Homo sapiens: one gene and its partners. The protein of the gene in region 3 purifies or fractionates together with the protein of the main gene of each other region. This does not show direct contact. Each region holds a gene or a part of one and is shown on either strand. Other genes may lie near its edges.

Evidence for each region.
Region 1: the proteins of BSPRY (region 3) and HSBP1 purify together in Homo sapiens (affinity purification with mass spectrometry; 2 studies listed by BioGRID and IntAct, with this or other methods). This does not show direct contact.
Region 2: the proteins of BSPRY (region 3) and RNF135 purify together in Homo sapiens (affinity purification with mass spectrometry; 2 studies listed by BioGRID and IntAct, with this or other methods). This does not show direct contact.

What each region holds. Positions count from the first base shown.
Region 1 is NC_000016.10:83,811,420-83,818,449, forward strand, and holds part of HSBP1 (heat shock factor-binding protein 1), read left to right. Parts: intron 1-1; 3' UTR 2-7,030. UniProt on the Homo sapiens protein: Negative regulator of the heat shock response. Negatively affects HSF1 DNA-binding activity. May have a role in the suppression of the activation of the stress response during the aging process.
Region 2 is NC_000017.11:30,995,035-31,000,437, reverse strand, and holds the end of RNF135 (E3 ubiquitin-protein ligase RNF135), read right to left. Parts: intron 3,197-5,403; coding exon 3,107-3,196; intron 1,777-3,106; coding exon 1,247-1,776; 3' UTR 527-1,246; downstream 1-526.
Region 3 is NC_000009.12:113,345,131-113,352,547, reverse strand, and holds the start of BSPRY (B box and SPRY domain-containing protein), read right to left. Parts: upstream 3,008-7,417; 5' UTR 2,969-3,007; coding exon 2,768-2,968; intron 1-2,767. UniProt on the Homo sapiens protein: May regulate epithelial calcium transport by inhibiting TRPV5 activity.

The DNA.
Region 1 (7,030 bases), on a different chromosome or scaffold from region 3:
GGTTGCTAATAATTTATACTGGAATCTGGCATTTTTCCAAGCCAAGAGAAGATCGAATGGCTTTTTGCAGCTAACTACTATGTGTAGACAGGTTTTATATTATAAAGTATGCATTCTTATCACCTAGTATATAGTTAGTTTGTAGAGTGATTTCCCCCCAGTTTCTTGAACATGGTATCTTCACATCTTGGACCTTGGTCAGTTGTGCTATTCATTATTAAACACTAAAACTTTGGCGGTTCTTGCATAACATTGTCAGATTTTTTAGTGTATTTCTGTGAAGTCATTTTTTTTCTTGTCATTCCTTTTGTAGTAGTTGCTGTTTGGATAAAAGTTGATGTGTGATTTTTTATTAAACAAATAGTAAACCCTTCAATTATAGTTAGTCTTGGTGAAGTAAGATGTTTGTAGACTTTAGAGTTCTTTAATTCTTGGCACAACGTGACTGTTGAGCTAACACCAAATAGTGTGTTGGCAATACTTTTCAAATGGCTGAAAACACCTAAAAATTGTTCATTCAGAAATATCTGTCACTGCTCTGTTGCCAAAACTCAGAATAGAACTTAGACGTATGTCTGAGTCCCTGAGATCACATGCTAAAGTCGATGAAAAGTAACCACTGCCACTGTCTTGTGTCAGAACTTTTACAGTACAGAAAATAACAGAATAGCCTTCTGTAATGAGGCGTTTGTTAGAGTTTTGCATGAGATTCTAATACTTCAGTAGGACCCTACCTACGTGGTTCATCTACAATGGTTACCATAAAAAATCTGGCAGGATTTTAAAACTCAATCAGTCTTTCCTTTGAGCTAGTGACTTGAAAAGAAAGAGAGAAGGAAAAGAGACCATATTAAGTCCATGCCAGTTGCTTGGCTAGAATATGATCAACGACTTGTAGTAGACTCAAGTTTTTAAAAAACACTATTTTACTTAAACTGTTTCTTATCTAAATTCTTGCAGAGTGTCAATGTTATCATTGATTATAGAAGACAGGGATAATACCTTTATCTCTGGCCACTCAAAAATGCAGTGCCAGGAGTGCTAAACCTAGAGGCCAATACTGATGACCTGGAAGGTGATCCATATGATTGTCACCACAAAGTGCTTTTACACAAAAACTTGAAAATTTGAAAAACATGATTTTTTTAAGTTTCTCATCTCACCAGTCTTGGTGTTTATATTGCAAATCTATCAAAGTAAGAAATAATTTGTGCTGTATACAAATTACATGGGGAACATAAAGGAGTGAGATCCTTCTGTGATAAAATGAATTCACCACTCTGGTTACCCAACTACAGAACCTCCTTTGATCAGGCCAGTAGGTTGTGATGCAGGCTGGAGCCCCCGAATGCCCCACACACACTGCAGCATTGACCAGACCATCCGAAACCTGCGTCCCTGGTGATGTTCTCAAGCCTCGGAAGTGGCAAATGGAAATGATATGGCCGGTTGCGGTTGTAGGAGAGTTGTGACTTAGGCAGGAGTCGACCTCCTCAAGTAATGGAACGATTTCAAAGGCAGGCTGCCCTGACCAAAAATATCTGCCATGAATAAAGGTGCCTGAAATCCTGCTATGAAGCTTCCTTTGTGTCAAAAATCTGTTTGGTTTTCAGATGGAAATGCAGAAATCACATTAGAGTATCAACTAAAACCTCTGGACGGATTAAGTACAAGTAGCCCAAGGCAAAGCAGGAGAGGGGGTGTTGGGGGAGGTTGCCTGCTGGAAGGGGAAGCTGAGGAGCGGGAGGAGGGCTTGCCAAGACTGGCATTGCAGGAGACTTGTCTCAGGTGTGTTCCCAGAACTCTTGCCCCTGGAGATGCTGCAGGAAGGAAGGGGTTATGGTCACTTGGGTTTAGACGACATTCTGTGAACCTCATGAAGAAATTAGCATATTAAAGACTCTGAAAGTAGAGCAGAGAACTCAGCTTTAACCTGCTCACCTGCTAGTTTTCGAGGTCTCGCTCTGTTGCCCAGGCTGGAGTGCAGTGGCACAGTCATAGCTCACTTGGAGCCTGAAGCTCCTGGGCTCAGGCAGTCCTCCTGCCTCAGCCTCCCAAGTAGCTAATATTACAGGTTCGTGCCACCGCACCTGGGTCTTGCTGTGTTGCCCAGGCTGGTCTAGAACTCCTAGGCTCAAGCAGTCCTGTCTCAGCCTCCCAAAGTGCTGGGATTACAGGCTGGAGCCACCATGCCTGTCCAAGGGTCTTTTTTATACTATATGAAGTATTCCTTCTCCAGCTATTCTTGTTCGTTTACCAGCCAGTGAAGATTCTCTTGAGGGCTGAACAATACAGATGAGTATGGGGGCCCTCGCACCAAGGAAAACAGCGTTACATTTAATTAAGTGCCCTGTCTCAAACCCCAAGGCCCCACAGCTTCTTCATTTGGCCCCTAGTTCATCCTGCTTTCCTTTGAGCCACAGGATTTTAAAATATTTCAATCTTATTTTCATATCAATTTTTTCTTTGTTTCACTACAAGTACAGTCATTGTTTAACCCTATCAGGACTAACACAATATTTCACGTAACTAAGAGTTAATTTGCCCTTGTGAGTCCTTGGAATTTAAGCCCCACACACACACACTTAGAGCACTGTTGCTATGGGAACATAGAGTCCTCCAAACAAAAGTGAACTTTTTCAACATGCTGTTTGTAAATGGAAGCCTTCCCAAGCAGACACTGTGTTCCTCTTTTATTTTGTATTTTGCACATTATATATTTTGATTAGATTAAAATGGAGGAATTTGCAGGATGTGTTGTCATATCTAGCCCTGAAAGTTAACTGGTTACAGTTACCAAATGTTCACAGCTAGCGCCATTGAAAGCATTGACTGTAAACCGCTGTACTGTGCTAAGCCTTTTGTTTGCACTGTTTGGCTTAATCCTCACAACAACACTGAGAGGTTTTCATTTGATGAGTCATATTTAAAGAAAAGGAACCCAAGACGGGGAGTCAGGGGCACAAGGTCACAGCTGGTAATGATGACCCTGGAATGTCCTCACAGCTGCACACCTGCACCGCTCACAAACACAGCTGACCGTCTCACAGCTGCACACCTGCACCGCTCACGAGCACAGCTGACCGTCTCACAGCTGCACACCTGCACTGCTCACGAACACAGCTGATCGTCTGCCTCTTCGTGTGAGCTGAGCTCCGAATCTCAGCTGTCCAGGCTGTCTGGAAATCATCAGCCCCACTGGCTGGATCTCAAAATTTACTTTCAAAAGGCTGATGGAGTGTTTTCAATTAAACATGACCTAAAATTAAGTAATAAACACACTGGATGTGAGTTTTTATTTGGAATTTAAACTATTCAGAGCTGGTAGAAAATGTGTGCTCCTGGATCAGTGCCTTTTTTCTCCTAAATCAGTTGAGAACAACAACAGAAACAAATGACATTCCTCAAACATTTGCCCAGAGCACAACCACGGGGAATATGAACCACAGGTTTTCACATTGGTTTTCCATGCCTATACCTGTCCTGTCTCCCACAAAAATTATTGCTTGAGGCCCAACCCGGGGGATAAAAAGACACCCCCCCGCCACTCCGTGACCTATTAGCTTACCATCCTATTGGATTTCACTGTTTTTTGTTTTGTGGTGTTTTTTTTTTATTGCAACGAAGACTTTTAAATGGACTCATGAAGAAGCCATCACCTGGAATCTTAATCTTGCATTAATTTTAAGTGTCTGATTTTAGCTGCAGCCACTTGAGAACTTTTCAATGAATGAAAATGAGGGAGGGGAGATGCAAGTCACTGCCCAAAAACAAAACCAGAGGAATTGTGATTGAACATTGCACTTATCAACCCTACAAATTAATATGGAAATAGGAAAAGGGTTTGTTTCAACAAGTCAGGATGACAGTATTTTAAAAAAGAAAAAAAGGCCAGCCTGGGCAATATACTGAGACTCCATCTCTACAAAAAAGTAGAAAAATTAGCCCAGAGTGTGGTGGCACACATCTGTGCTCCCAGCTACTCAGGAGGCTGAGGTGGGAGGATCATTTGAGCCCAGGAAGTCGAGGTTGCAGTGAGCTGTGATCGGACGACTCCACTCCAGCCGGGGTGACAGAGCAAGACCCTGTCTCAAAAAAAAAAAAAAAGGGCGGATCCTAACGCTTGGTCCTCACACCTGAGGCTCTCACTAAGAGGTGGCTGGAAGCTCCTCAGACCGCTGCCTAGGGTTCGAGTGATCCTGAAAGCTGTACAACATCAGCCTCTGTGGGATCCCTGAGAATGATGAAATGTAATATGTGGCTGTCTCATCAACAGAGCTTCATTTTACCAAAGCATATGTAGACACCACATACATGAACTACATACCTATCGTGTAGATGCTGCCCTGCCTCATAAGAACACTCTTGACTGTCCTGCTTCACAATAATAATCTTCGCAATAATGATCTAATAATGGTCAAATTCTGTGTCTCTACCGTAGAAAACAGAATTTGACCATTTAGTCACGTTGGTCTTGCAAAATGTCCACCTTCCAAAAGAGAACAGTATTGCTTCCCAATAATTAAGAATAGTCTGGATTCAGGATCCAGCAGCTTAGAAGCGTTTAGCTACCAATAGCAAAAATCAGCCCTTTTAACAATGGTGGGATGTATTATTTCACATGGCAAGAAGTCCCAAGGGAGGGCAGCTCTGGGGCGAGTAAATTCTGCACCTCAGTAAAACTAAGAGCAAGACCCGGCCGGGCGCAGTGGCTCATGCCTGTAATCCCAGCACTTTGGGAGGCCGAGGTGGGTGGATCACCTGAGGTCAGGAGTTCTAAACCAGCCTGGCCAACATGGCGAAACCCCCGTCTCTACTAAAAATACAAAAATTAGCCAGGCGTGGTGGTGGGCGCTTGTAATCCCAGTTGCTCGGGAGGCTGAGGGAGGAGGATCGCTTGAACTCAGGAGGTGGAAGTTGCAGTGAGCCGAGATCGTGCCACTGCACTCCAGCCTGGGTAACAGAGCGAGACTCCATCTCAAAAAATAAAAAACAAAAAAATAAATAAAAAATAAAAAGACCCAACCCCAGATTTGTTCCACCTGGGTGCATCCGGTCAGAGAATGCCTTTCTTCTTCCCTTTTGTCTCCTAAGAGTGAAGAAAATGTTTCTTTGAAGGTGTTTCCACCCCACTCCTGTGCCTAAAATGATCCTGGCAAACAGGACCCGCATGATAGGTTGAGCCATGTGGTTCTTGTTTTTTTGTTGTCACAACTCAGGTTGGGGGTGTTACTGGCATCAAGAGTGTAGAAACCAGGGATGCTGCGTCAACACCCTACCATGCACAGGACAACCCTCACCCCAAAGAGTGGCACAGCCCCAAGTGTCAACAGTGCTGAGGTTGAGGAATCCCAGCTTAACCCATTCATGAGACCACCTGAGCCTGGTGTAACGGTTCTGCTGATAGTTTCCGGACCCTCAGAGGTGGAGACATAAGAGAACAATACCAGGGTTCCATCAGAAAGGAAATCAGAATGGCTATCGGGTGGACAACCTACAGTGTTTGCTACAGACCTTCTAGATGTAACTTCTAGATTATAAACACTGGTAACACTGGAGATGGTTAAATCGGAATTAGCTGACTGTCAACCTTGGTGGCACATTAGAATCACCTGGGGAGCAGTTCAAAGGCCCAAAACTGGGCAGCACCACAGAACCCTCACATCAGAATCCCCATGGGTGGGCCCAGACAGCAGTGTTCATCTTAGACTCCAGTGTGCAGTCGAGGTCGAGAACTGCATTCAAGAAGGCCTGTCTACTGCGAACCGTCCGATGATGTAATTCACCAAGTTCCATGGGATTCCGCCACGCCCGTGTCAACCCAGCTGACACGTCCAACTTGGACAATCAGGGCTTTGACCCCCGTTACCTGGCATTCAATTCAATCCATGTGTCACGCATGCCCCAACAATTTGTGTCCCAACTGTTTGAATCAAAGGATTTCTGATTCCCTGATGGGTGATGACTCAGTAACCGGATTCAGCTTCAGATCTGCCTGACATTTTTCCTGCCTGTCCTGGGCCAGGTATGGCGCTAGCTGCTTTCACCTGTATCATCTCATTCACTGCTCAGAGGCTCTCGAAAGCTGTTGACATTATCAAAAAGTTTTCCAGCTGGAATTCATCTCCCTCTAATCAGCCTTCAAAACCTCCATTTGTAAACCATTGCTGTAGTTTTATTACCTCTTACCTTGGTCTTTACAAGTTGCTGTCAAAACCCAGTAAGTGTTTACAGAAAGAAACTTTACATATTAAATATCTTAAAGGTCTTTTATGCAGAATATGCAGTTAATTTTGATGGGCTATGGATAATCATCAGAAGAGCCATTTCTGGAAATGTAAATAATATGGCTGTTTCTTTTAACAGTGCATTCTCCTGAAAACATAAGACCATTTGACTGATTCTGCTCCAGAATCTTATTGAGGCAAAGGACTGGACCGAATTATTCATGGAACAGAAGCCTAGGACTGGTAAGTCCAGGAAATGCTGCAAAACAATGCCCTCAAAAGAAATCAGCCTTTCCCTTTGATAGGTATCTCTCCTGCAAGCCAGGCTCAGGTGCGCCTCAATTAGAACCTGTGTTCGCTGGGGCCATAATTAAGAATCTTAAAGGGAAAGAATGTTTTGAAAGCCATCTGTCAAAAGTACGCAGTCTTGCTTGTAGAATTTTAGAGGTTCATGGTTACCGTGGGTCGGCACTGGGTCTGTGAGCCCTCATCCCCAGGGCTCGGTTTCCTATCAGAATCCTTGTCTGGAAGGTTGATTATATCAGATGCGCATTTTGCCAGCATCCTCAGAAGGAGATGCGAGGAAGATTCTTTTCCTGGGCCACTCTCATTTTCTCAAACTTGGACAAGTCTTAACAATAATCTGTGACCCAACTTTGTCTTCCCCATGATGAAAAACAGACCCCATAGAAACTCTCTGGCACAAAAACTCTGGAATCACTGACCCCAGACATTGTTCCCTGCCATCCACTCTGCCAGACATTTCTTGGATTTATTCAAGCTGACTTGTATTCCAGAACAAT
Region 2 (5,403 bases), on a different chromosome or scaffold from region 3:
TCACACCACTGCACTCCAGCCTGGGCATCAAGAGTGAGACTCCGTCTCAAAAAAAAAAAAAAGATTTTGCGTCATCTGGCTAGGAGACCCTCTCCCTTATTGTCTTTGAGGAAACAAGCAGCTGTGTTGCAAAGGCCTATGGGGTAAGGAACTGAGGGCGGTCTCCAGCCAACAACCAGAAAGAAACTGAGGCCCTCAGTCCGGCAACTCAAGAACTGAAGGCTGCCAATGACCATGTAATTTGGAGGCAGATCCTTCCCCATTGGAGCCTCAGATGACCCTGTGTCCCCAGCTGACATGTTGATTGCAGCTTGTAAAACTCTGATGTAGGAGACTCAGCTAAGCTATGCTCTGACTCCTGACTCACAGAAACTGTGAAATAATATCTATGTGTTATTTTAAACCATTAAATTTGTGGCAATATTCTTACATAGCAACTGATAAGTAGCAAATTATGTTTAGAGATCCTCTGAGACTGCCCTCAGGTTCAGTGATTCACTAGAAGGACTCACAGAACTCAGCAAAGTGTTGCACTCATAGTTACAGTTTATTACAGTGAAAGGATACAGATTAAAATCAGCAATGAAGAAAGGCACATAAGGTAAGGTCCAAGAGAACTTCCAATTATCCTCTCCTGGCAGAGTCTTCAGGATAATGCTTAATTCTCCCAGCAATGATGTGTGGCTACAATGATGTGTGCACAGAGTATTACCAACCAGAGTAGCTCACCCATGCCTAGGTGTCCAGGGCTTTTACTAGGGATTGATCACATTGGCATGCTTCACTGCCCACATGGCTAACTTAGTCTCCTCAGCTTGACCTTGCAAGGTCAAGCTGATACTGCATGGCCCAAGGCCCACAGGTAAACAAAAACACTCTTATCAGGCAAGATATTCTAATGGCTTAGAGGTTATCTCCCAGGAGCCAGGCAGGGGCCTATTCTTTATTTGGAATGTCCAGGGTTCAAACATCCCAAGTTCATCCTGTATCACACAAAAGGATTAACTTCAAAAGTGGTATTCTTGGCCAGGTGTGGTGGCTCACACCTGTAATCCCAGCACCTTGGGAGGCTGAGGTGGGAGGACTGCTTGAGACCAGGAATTCGACACCAGCCTGGGCAACCTAGTGAGATCCCATCTCTATCGTAATTTTTCTAAAAAGTGGTATTCTTAAGTCAAGTTACTACCCTGATTGATGACAGGGAGAGAGACCAGGAAACCACTGTGTTGTAATCCCTTAGGAAACCTTACACCTTTACTTGCTTTATTATCAGGTAATTTCCAGGATGTAAGCCATACAGCCAGAAGGCAGGGTACAAAGGAGAGGAGGCAGAGATGGTACACTCATACAGAAGCTTCTCCTGATTGTCCACTGAATAGAAGGCAAGCTTTCCCTCCTCAAGGTTCAGCCAGATGCCCACCACCCCAGGTCTGTCTGAGCCAAGGACAGTTTCCTTGACCATGTGCCATGCAGAGAGCTGGCTAGTCCCCTTCCATTCCACACAACAAGAGTCCATAGTCCTTCCCAGGACCTGGTCGCGGCTCATCTCCCAGGAAGCCACCCCAACTGCCCAGTGGCTGCAATTCCTAGTGTCCACTTCCCAGTAATGCTTTCCAGAAGACAGGGCCTGGGAACATAAGACCTGGCTGGTAGAAAACCTCTCACAGCTCCAGCGATAGGGTTGTGGGCGGTGAGACACAGTCACTGTACGGGAATCCTTGGACACCTCCAGGCTGCAGGAAAGGCTCTTCAAGTTAAAGGTTGGATGGATGGCCCCTTTGGAAAAAAAAAAAGAACAATAAGAACATGGCCGGTCATCTTTTGATGGTCCATGCTAAGAAGTCTTCAAATAGCAACTTTGTATCTTTTGGTGTGATGTTTCACTCACACTAGCATTAAAATTGCTACATCACCCAACAGGAAGAAATGATAAATGTTTCAGATGATAGATATGCTAACTACCTTGATCGGATCACTATGCACCATATGTATTGAAACATCACTATGTATCCCATAAATATGTACACTTATTATATTTATTTATTTTTAAAATTTATTTAGAAAAGAAGCAGGATTTTGCCATGCTTCCTAGGCTGGTGTCGAACTCCTGAGCTCCAGCAATCCTGCCATCTCAGCCTCCCAAAGTGCTGCAATTACAGGCATGAGCCACTGCACCCAGACTATACAATTATTATATGTCAATTTTAAAAATCAGGCCAGCTCCTTCAGCCAGGTGCACTGGCTTACCCCTGTAATCCCAGCACTTTGGGAGGCTGAGGCAGGTGGAACACTTGAGGCCAGGAGGTCAAGACCAGCCTGGCCATCATGGCCAACTCCTGTCTCTATTAAACATACCAAAATTAGCTGGGCGTAGGCAAGGTGCGGTGGCTCACGCCCGTCTTATGGTGATTTATGACCACAGCTGTTTATACCTTCCCAGTTAAACTGAAACTTCCTGATTGAGGACCATGTCTTACTCACTTTGTATATTTCATTTGGTTTCCTATTGAGTGAATAAATTGCTAACACTTATACAGCATGACTACTCTAGGTGTTTTACTCATACTCACTCACTTAACCCTCATGGCAATCCCGCAAGAGAAGTACTATATTATCTCCATTTTACAGATGAGGAAACCCAGGCTCTAGGAAGCTTAAGTGACTTGCCCAAGATCACACAGCTAGTTAGTGGAGCTGCTGGGAGTCAAACCCAAGCAGTCTGGCTCTGGGATCCATGCTCTTAAGGACTATCCCAGACTGAGATGGCAGAAATACCTCAGCAGGTTTAGGAAGAGGCAGTTGGCTATAGTTGGTGGCCACAGCACAGATGCAGAAATACCTCAGCAGGTTTGGGAACAGGCAGTTGGCTGTAGTTGGTGGCCACAGCAGAGATGCTCAAAGGTTGGCGGGACTCTGAGTGCTCTTGGGTCTAGAGTCTCAACCTGCTTTGCCTTTGCAATCAGCTCCCCCCGTGGAGGGACCTGGAACAAATCCATGTGCAGTAAGCCAAGGAGTGGCCCTAGCAGTAGGGAGATGGATGTAGGATATTCTCGAAGCCCGCTCTGCGGCAAGCCAAACCCATGTTTAAAGTGGACCACATACTTACACTGAGCAAACCGAGAAGCTCTCCTGAGTGCAGGGTGGCTCTGGTCAGGCAATGGGCATGAGGAGGAAGACGGGGCTTCCAGGAGTTCTCCTAAGTAACAAAAAAATTAACAGAGGAAAGTCCCATCAGAAAAAGGCAAACTGAAGGTCTCCAAACATCATGGTCAAGGCACATGGCTGGCTTGTCTTCTTATCATCTACACATTTTTCAGTGTCAGGACTGGATCAGGCAGAGGCAGTGTGCCTGCAGCCCAGGTATGTGCACCTCCATGTTCTCACTGTGGACTTTTCACTCTTTCTTCACTAAGCTCTCAGCTCCTTGCTAGCAAAGATCTTGTTCATCTATATGTTCTAAGCACCAAGCCCCATGCCAGTCCCATAGATAGAAGGTGTTTTATGCACACTCATGAAATAAAATCAACTAATACAGTTCCAGGGGATTGCAGCACCCTAACACCTAGAATATCCAGGACCCCCAAGTCAATGTTTTAAACTGTTGTTACATAAACTGGGTAACATGAGTTGGGGTGAGATTCATCACCATTGCTGACACCTCCTAATTCCCTCTCGATGTGCTAAAGTTTAATTATTAACTTAAAGCAGTCATGTGTGCTAGAGTGCAATGACCACGTCAGGCAGATGATAAGTAAGGGAAGTCCTAGAGTGCAGACTTTGAAGGCAAAATCTTGTCCTACTTGTATCTTGAAGTGACAGCAGCTGCAGTGAATCTAAGACTCCACCTGAGAAGAGATGAAAGACCTTGTCTAGGGTGTGCCTGTGGTAACTTAGGTCATGAGAGCAAGAGAGCTGCCTGTAAAGAGGCCAGTCTCAAAATTCAACTCGGAACTGAAGCAATCCCTGTGTCCAGAGACAGAAAAATGGATAAAGAAATGTGATATATACATACAATGGAATATTATTTAGCCTTAAAAAGTAACGAATACTGCCTGGGCGCAGTGGTTCACACCTGTAATCCCAGCACTTTGGGAGGCCAAGACAGGCAGATCACAAGGTCAGGAGTTCAAGACCAGCCTGGCCAATATGGTGAAACCCCATCTCTACTAAAAATACAAAAATTAGCTGCGTGTGGTGACACATGGCTGTAATCCCAGCTACTTGGGAAGCTGAGGCAGGAGAATCACTTGAACCTGGGAGGCGGAGTTTGCAGTCAGCCGAGATCGCACCACTGACTCCAGCCTGGGAAACAGAGTGAGACTCCATCTCAAAAAAAAAAAAAAAAAAAAGTAATGAATTCTGCCTGGGCGTGGTGGCTCACGCCTGTAATCCCAATACTTTGGGAGGCTGAGGCGGGCGGATCACCTGAGGTCAGGAGTTCGAGACCTGCCTGGCCAACATGGCGAAACCCCATCTCTACTAAAAAATACACACACACACACACACACACAAAACTAGTCAGGGGTGGTAGCACATGCCTGTAATCCCAGCTACTACTAGGGAGGCAGAGGTGGGAGAATTGCTTGAACCCGGGAGGCAGAGGTTGCGGTGAGCCAAGATCGCACCACTGCACTCCAGCCTGGGTGACAGAGCAAGACTCCGTCTCAAAAAAAAAAAAAGTAACAAATTCTGATATATGCTACAACATAGGTGAGCTTGGAGGACATTATGCTAAGTGAAATAAACCTCTCACACACTAATACTGTATGATTCCACTCACATGAGGTATCTAGAATAGTCAAATTCATAGAACAGAAAGTGGAATAGTGGTTGCCAGGTAGGAGGGGGTTGAAGGAATGTGGAATTGTTGCTTAATGGGTATAGAGTTTCAATTCTGCAACATGAAACCAGGCATGGTGGCCCATGCTTATAGTCCCAGCTAGTTAGGAGGCTGAGGCAGCAGGCTCACTTGAGGCCAGGAGGAGTTCCAGACCAGCCTGGGCAACATAATGAGACCCTGTCTCTACAAAACAATTCTTTTTTTTTTTTTGAGACTGAGTCTCGCTCTGTCGCCCAGGCTGGAGTGCGATGGCGCAATCTCAGCTCACTGCAAGCTCCACCTCCCGGGTTCACGCCATTCTCCTGCCTCAGCCTCCTGAGTAGCTGGGACTACAGGCGCCCACCACCACACCCAGCTAATTTTTTTGTATTTTTAGTAGAGACGGGGTTTCACCGTGTTAGCCAGGATGATCTCGATCTCCTGACCTAGTGATCCACCCGCCTCGGCCTCCCAAAGTGCTATGATTACAGGCGTAAGCCACTGTCCCGGCCAAAACAATTCTTTAAATAGCTGAGCATGGTGGTGTGGGCCTATAGTCCTGGCTACTGGGGAGGCTGAAGCAG
Region 3 (7,417 bases):
CTGACTTCAGTGCCTTTGCACCTGCAGTTCCGTTTCCACCAGTCTGTGTGTGTGTGTGTGTGTGTGTCTCACTCCCCAACTGCATTCAGATGTCATCTCTTCAGAGAGGTCTTCCCTGACCATCTCCCTCCTCACCCAATCTCTTACTTTGCTTTATTTTTCTCCCTTGCACTTATAACTCTCTGACTATATATTATGTGTTTGTTTACCTTTTTGGGTATCTGTCTCCCCCACCACTGGAACAGAAGCACCATAAGTCTGACTTCTCTATGTCCTAGTACCTCAAAGAGAGTTTCTGAACATAGAAGGCCCTGAATAAATATTTGTTGAATGAACGAACACCCACTGCCTTGACCACAAGAGGTTCAGCAGTTCATGGCTCTCAAAGCTATGAGCATCATCCATGAGCTCAGGGGAGTTTTAGAAATGGGAAAGCTGGCCGGGCACGGTGGCTCACACCTGTAATCCCAACACTTTGGGAGGCTGAGGTGGGCGGATCACCTGAGATCAGGAGTTCGAGACCAGCCTGGCCAACGTGGTGAAACCCCATCTCTACCAAAAAATACAAAAATTAGCCAGGCGTAGTGGCATGCGCCTGTAGTCCCAGCTACTCGGGAGGCTGAGGTGGGAGAATCTCTTGAATCTAGGAAGCAGAGGTTGCAGTGAGCTGAAATAGCACCACTGCACTCCACACTCCAGCCTGGGTGACAGAGTGAGACTGTCTCAAAAATAAATAAATATAAGTAAATAAATTTTAAAAAAAAAGGAAAGAGAAAGAAACGGGAAAGCTGAGGCCCAAAGAGAAGTGACTTCCCCAAGAAGGTATGGGCCAGGGCCCTGCTTTTGCTCTCCGTTTCTCCAGGTGATACCTAGAGCCTATCCAAGCAGCAGTCCCTCCACTGTTCCCCCTAAGAGTTCTGCCTCAGTTCCATCTGCCAAAAGGCAACTTAGCTACCTCTTCCAGGAAGCCCTTGTAAATCTTTCCACCCAGAAGTAGAAATTAGTTACATTTCATAGGTCCAAATACAAAGTTACAGAATTGAGTTGACTAGGAGGAAGCTGTGATCACCATGCACCATGGACTAAGAGCACTGAGAAGGCTTCTGAAAAACCACAGGGCAGGAATCCAGAGGTAGGAGAGCAGTAGAACTGGTGCTGGTTTTGGTAATAATCTTGCCCTAGGGTGAGATTTATTTGCTGACTGGATGGATAGAGGAAGGAATGTGCAAAAGACAGAAATCTACTCTAATTTGGTGGAAGAGAGGGTAAGACCCACCTCCCTTCAGGCAAAGGAGATAAATATGCATACGGCCTCAGAGGGGTTCAAAGAAGGTTCCCTAGGGTAGTACCGAAACTAGCACCAGGCCTGCCACCTGCCCGAGGCTTCACTCTTTCCACCACTCAAATCCAGTCCTGATAGCTACTTTTAAGGTTTCCATGACATTCTCACCCCCATTAGCATCACTTCCTCCCTCCAACCGCCGAAGCAAAGCAGCAGTTTCCTCTTGCCTAGTCAATGACTCCCTGGGTCCCACCCCTGAACATTAGGAAGCTTGGAGGAGTTACTGCCTTGTTCCGAGCCTCCAGTGCCTCATCTGTAAAATGTAGGTAGGACCCCTTCAAAGGCGTGGTCAAGACAGAATGAGATGACAGACATTTAAGTACTTTGGAGTTTGCAAATTTTTTTGTCCATTATGCAAGTTGATTACACCGCGTTATCCAGGTTTATTTTTGTCATCATTATTGTTGATAGAGGTAACAGGTAGGACGAACCAGGAGCTTTTGGGTGTTGCTGAAAAACTGAACCCCTCCCGAGCCCAGCACCCTATATAAGATGTGTTTATTACAGGTCACTCTGGGTAGGCGAAGTCCCCAGCCAGAGCCCTCAGGCTTCACAGCAGGGGTGAACTGCAGAGTCGGGTTGGGAGAAACAAGCTGTTTAATCAAATTGCAAGGAAATCCCCAGGGGCCACAGAGAAGCCCAAGGTGACTTCGACTCTCCCAATCTCAGCAGCTCAGGAGAATGGTGATGACAAGGAGGTGGCCACCCTGGAGCCGAGCTGGAAGTGGAGGTGGCGAGAAAGCCTGGGTGAAGGGGAATCCCCTGATATTCTCCCTACCCCCACCGTTTATCCAGCTGAAGCCCTTAAACCAGCCTGAAGTACAGTCAAGGCCAATCCTGAAAGCGAAAAAGAGATCACCGCACCAGAAGCCAGAAGGGGTTAGGAGCAGGGGGAAGAGGCGAAAGGAGGAGGGGGGCTTTGAGTCCAGGGGTTAAGGGATACGGTCGCGCTGGATTTTATCAGTGTCAGTTTCCACAGGGGCGGGAGCTGGGGCACACCCTGCGCTGAGAACTGGAGCAGCTGAGCCTTTCATGCCAGCCCCAGCTTCCTCAACAGAGCAATGGAAGGGGCCTGGGGAGCCTGGATCCCCTTATCGCTAAGCATTTTACCCACTATCTTATTTATTTCTCACAACTCTAATAAATACGCGCTATTATTATTGTTGTTGTCCCCAAACTACAGATGAAGACACTGAGGCTCAGAGTTACGTGACTCACAGGGAGTAGATTCGAACTCAGGCCAGCCTGACTTCAGAGGCCACACCCTTAACCGCCTAGTCCTACAGCCAAAGCCACCGAGGAGCCTAGGCTCCGGGGCCGGGTGTCGAGTCCGCCCAGCCCCAGGCTCCCCAGTCCCTGCCGGGTCCCGCCAGGCGCGCCCGGGGTCTCCGGAGCCCTCGCCTTCCGGCGCCCACACCCGCTCACCCGCAGCTCCTCGGCGCGCTCCTCCGCCCGGCGGATGCGGTGCCCCCGGCAGCGACCGCCCAACCCCGCGCAGGCGGCGCACACGGGCCGTCGCTCGGAGCCGCAGAACCAGCTCAGAGCCTGGCCGTGTTCGGGGCAGAGTGGCCCCGGCCCGGGCCCGGACCCGGACCCCGGCCCCGGCTCCGCGCCCTCGGCGGACATGGCCGTGCGCCCGCCCCGTGCGCTCCACCTGTCGCAGGTGGCGGCGGGCGGGGCCTGGCTGACCCCGCCCCCGGCCCTCCCGGTGCGCCAGCGCGCCCCGCAGCTGCGCCTCCTCCCACCCAACCCGCGCTCCCATCCCGCCCGGGGCAGCAGGTCTCTTTAAATTCCTTGTTGAATGAAATCGCGATTGTATGCGTATTTGTTCTACAACAAACATAAAACTCCAAATATTACTGTGACCGTAGGAAACTTTATTGAGCACTTATTAAGTGCCAGGCTTTCGCTGAGAGCTTTGCAAGCGTTCTGTTATGTAATCCCGACCACTGCCCTTTTTGAGAGGCAGCTTTAGATGCCTAGCTTCAAGCAAGGCTCTGCTGAGAAACTGCCTGGTTCAAATCCCGTTTGGCTGCTCACTGGGTGGGAACTCCAGCTGTAAAATGGGGTGAGAGTACCTGCCTCCCAGACGTCTGAGGAGTAAATACGCTAAATACGTAAAACAATATCTGGAACATAGCAGCTGCAATCGCTAAGTGTCTACTAACAGTGCGAGGAAAGTACTATTAGGATCCCATTTTTATGGAAGTTAAGTGGCTTGCCAAGGGTCACAGTTACTAATTGGTAGCTATGAGATTGGAACCTAGGCAGTGTGACTTAAGGTTACTATAATTAATAATTTTTTAAATTGAACATTGAGGCCCAGTGAGAAATATCTGTATTAGGCTGATTTTCCCAAAGTATTTACATCCAAACTTTTTGAATTTGAATATTTGAGTTTTCTTTTTAAACTAGCATTGAAAAAAAGTAATGCCTTTTTATTTCGAAGAAAACAAAATATGCAAATAAGCATGTGGAAGAAAAATCCACCCACTCCCACCCCAGAAAGAAAAACTGCTAACATGTTCCTGAGCTGTTTAGGGCTTTTCCCACCCTCAGGATCTTATATATTAGTCTGAGCCCAGATTGAGCCCTCTGCTGGGGATCCAGTCTAGTCTGTCTGGGCATACAAGGAGAACGCTGCTCTCCAGCTCTAAATTCTTCTTCTTCTTTTTTTTTTTTATTTTTTTTTATTTTTTTGAGATAGGGTCTCACTGTGTCACCCTGGCTGGAGTGCAGTGGTGTAATCATAGCTCACTGCAGCCTCGACCTCCCCAGCTCAAGTGATCCTCCCACCTCAGCCTCCTGAGTAGCTGGGACTACAGGCACATGCCACCGTGCCCAGCTAAGTTTTGTATTTTTCGTAGAGACAGGGTTTTGCCATGTTGCCCAGGCTGATCTCAAACTCCTGGGCTCAAGCCATCTCCCCCCTTCAGCCTCCCAAAGTGCTGGGATTACAGGTGTGAGCCACCGCGCCCGGCCACCAACCCCAAATTCTTTCTTAGGAGTCTTGGCAGAAAGCTGGGCACTCTCTCAAAAGGGGAAGGGCCCAGGCCTTCAGGTGTCAGAGAGTACTCTGAGTGCATCAGAACTGAACACAGGCGGGAGCTAAACCGAAAGAGAAACATTACATCCCATAGCTCACAGGGGCTCTAGCACCTCTACTCTGAAGCTTCTCTAAGCAATGGCCACACAAAGGAGATAGAACCCTTTCCTTCTCAGCCACTACTGCTTTAGCACCTGAGGGGTAAGGGCAGCTAACAGCCCCAGAGCTACCCAGAGCGGTACACAGTGGTGTCATCATCCAATGGGGACACATTGTCACCCCAGATAGACAATATTACACCATATGATTAGAGAGAACACTGAGTGAAATATAGTCATTGGTTTCATCCCAGCTATGCAGCTTACAGCTATGGGATCTTGGTCAGGTTACTCACAGCTTCTGTGTCTGTTTTCTTATCTCTACAACAGAGGTGATAATAATACTATCATCTACCTTAGAGGGCTACTTCAAGAATGAAATGAGATCTTGTCTACAAAGTATTTACTTTGGGTGTCTGATATACAGTAGGGGATAATAAAAGGTTTTATTATATGTGTGAGGATCTGTAAATACAGTTGTAGCAGGTTTCAGAATGTAAATTGTGTGAGGTTCTTTGGCGACAGGGGTGCTGCTTTCCTGGCATCTAAAGAAGTTTCCAGTGCATCCCAGTGGGAGGGTGATGGCCTCATAACAGCATCTACACTCCTCTGGGGGTGGGGAGGGAAATAGGCCATGGTAATTAGAGATTGTGGTTAGAATTTTTTCCTTCTAAGGACTGGGGATGGGGAATTATTAAACCCTATGGTGAAAACAAAGAAAATAGGAGGTGCTTTTTGTGTGAAGGCTAAAAAGAAAAGAGGTTGTGTGGCCAGGAGCAGTGGCTCATGCCTGTAATCCCAGCACTTTGGAAGGCTGAGGCAGGCGGATCACTTGAGGAGTTCGAGACCAGTCTGGCCATCATGGTGAAACCCCGTCTCTACTAAAAGCACAAAAATTAGCCGGGCATGGTGGTGCACACCTGTAATCCTAGCTGCTGGGGAGGCTGAGGCATGAGAATCGCTTGAACCCAGGAGGTGGAGGTTGCAGTGAGCTGAGATCGCGCCACTGCACTCCAGCCTGGACAACAGAGCAACACTCTGTTTCAAAAAAAAAAAAAAAGAAAGAAAGAAAGAAAAGAAAAGAAAAGAAAGAAAAGAGGTTGTGGAGGGCAGGGGGAGGAACAAGGGTTAAAATCCTTAGGGAAAGGTGGGGGGGGGGGAGGGGGGCCTTCACTGGGTGTGGCCCTAGAGCAGTCATTGGCCCTACCAGGTCCAGGATCTGGAAAACAGCCCCTAAATCACCAGAATTACTTTCAGGTAGTGGCATCAGCAAATGCAAAGGGCTAAGGTAGGAGTAGATTTACTTTTATCAAGTCGGGTTCCTCTGTTTCACCACTTATGAGCCAAGTTGGACTGGAACTGGAGAATCGCCCTTTCCCTATCTGTTCATCAAGCCCTGCAGGACACATCTGGGATACTCATAAACTCCCCGGTTATAGCTCTTAAGCTTTATCAGGCTTCGGAATCGTTGGAGGACAGGGGATGGTCAGGAGGGGAAAGAGGAGGAGTTGTAAAACACGCAGACTTTCCGGTAAGATTTTCATCCATTAAGTCTGGGATGAAGCCAAGAAGCTGCATCTGTGGCAGTCACTCCTTGACTAGGATGCAAAGGAGCCCCTTGACTGTTTCTAGAAACACTGCCCTAAGGCAGTGGCAACCCTTTATTAGGTGGCATATCAAGAAATTCAAGGGGTGGAGATCAGCATCTTTTATAAAAAGAAAGAAAAGGCTGGGCACAATGGCTCACGCCTGTAATCTCAGCATTTTGGGAGGCTGAGGAAGGTGGATCACCTGAGGTCAGGAGTTCGAGACCAGCTTGGCCAACATGGTGAAACTCCGTCTCTACTAAAGATACAAAAACTAACCAGGCGTGATGGCACATGCCTGTAGTCCCAGCTACTTGGGAGGCTGAGGCAGAAGAATCACTTGAACCCGGGAGGCAGAAGTTGCAGTGAGCAGAGACTATACCACTGCACTCCAGCCTGGGTGGTGGGTGACAGAGTGAGGCTCTGTCTCCAAAAGAGAAAAAAAGAAAAGAATAAAGAACAGAAAACATGCTCTTAGTAAGGTTTTTGTTGTTTCAATTACATATATATAGGTAAACAAAATGGATGGAAGGTCGTTGTTTTGGACTGGGCTTCCACACTAGGCCCCACCATACCAAACCAAAACAAAATGGAGTTACTCATGCTAAACTGCCACTTCACCAAACCAAAACTAAGTAGTTTATCTGAACTTCCAAGAAATTGGGAGAGAAAAAGAGAAAGAGAGAGCATATTAAAATCCCCAAACAGTACAGAATTAGCTGGCATGATAAGGAAGTCCTCTCTGTTTTAACCCTAAAAGGAAAGTAACTTTGAAATGAGTAATCCTCTTTTTTTTTCCAGCTCTTTTCTACCTATAAAGCCCATGTCCTCTGTTCAGCTCATTGGAACATTCTGTTTTATAGAATTAGGTGTTGCCTGATTCTAGAAGTGCTAATAAAAGCCAATAAGATCACTCAACTACATTTGTTGTAATTTTGTCTTTGGCCTATATATACGTACATATGCACCGTGGAGAATGAATGTACTTCTTTATGAGGTCAAAAAAATTTGAAAGCTGCTTAGAGCTCTTAGGGGACCTCTGGAGGCTTCATGGGCATAGGCAGGGCTGTACTTGAACTTCAGGCACTCTGAGCTAGGGAGAGAAGAATGGACACCATTGTTACATTTTAGTCATTCAACAGATTTATTGAGCCCCTGCCAATGTGCCAGGCCTTAGACACTGGGGATACAACAGTCAAGAAGAACAAAGTCTACTTTCATGCACAAATAAAATGCAACAAATGGATATGTAATATAATGTCAGTAATGATAAGGGCTATGAAAAAGATTCAAGTATTACAAGAAAAAGAGCATGATGGAGGTGCTGGTGTAGAAAGGATGGTGT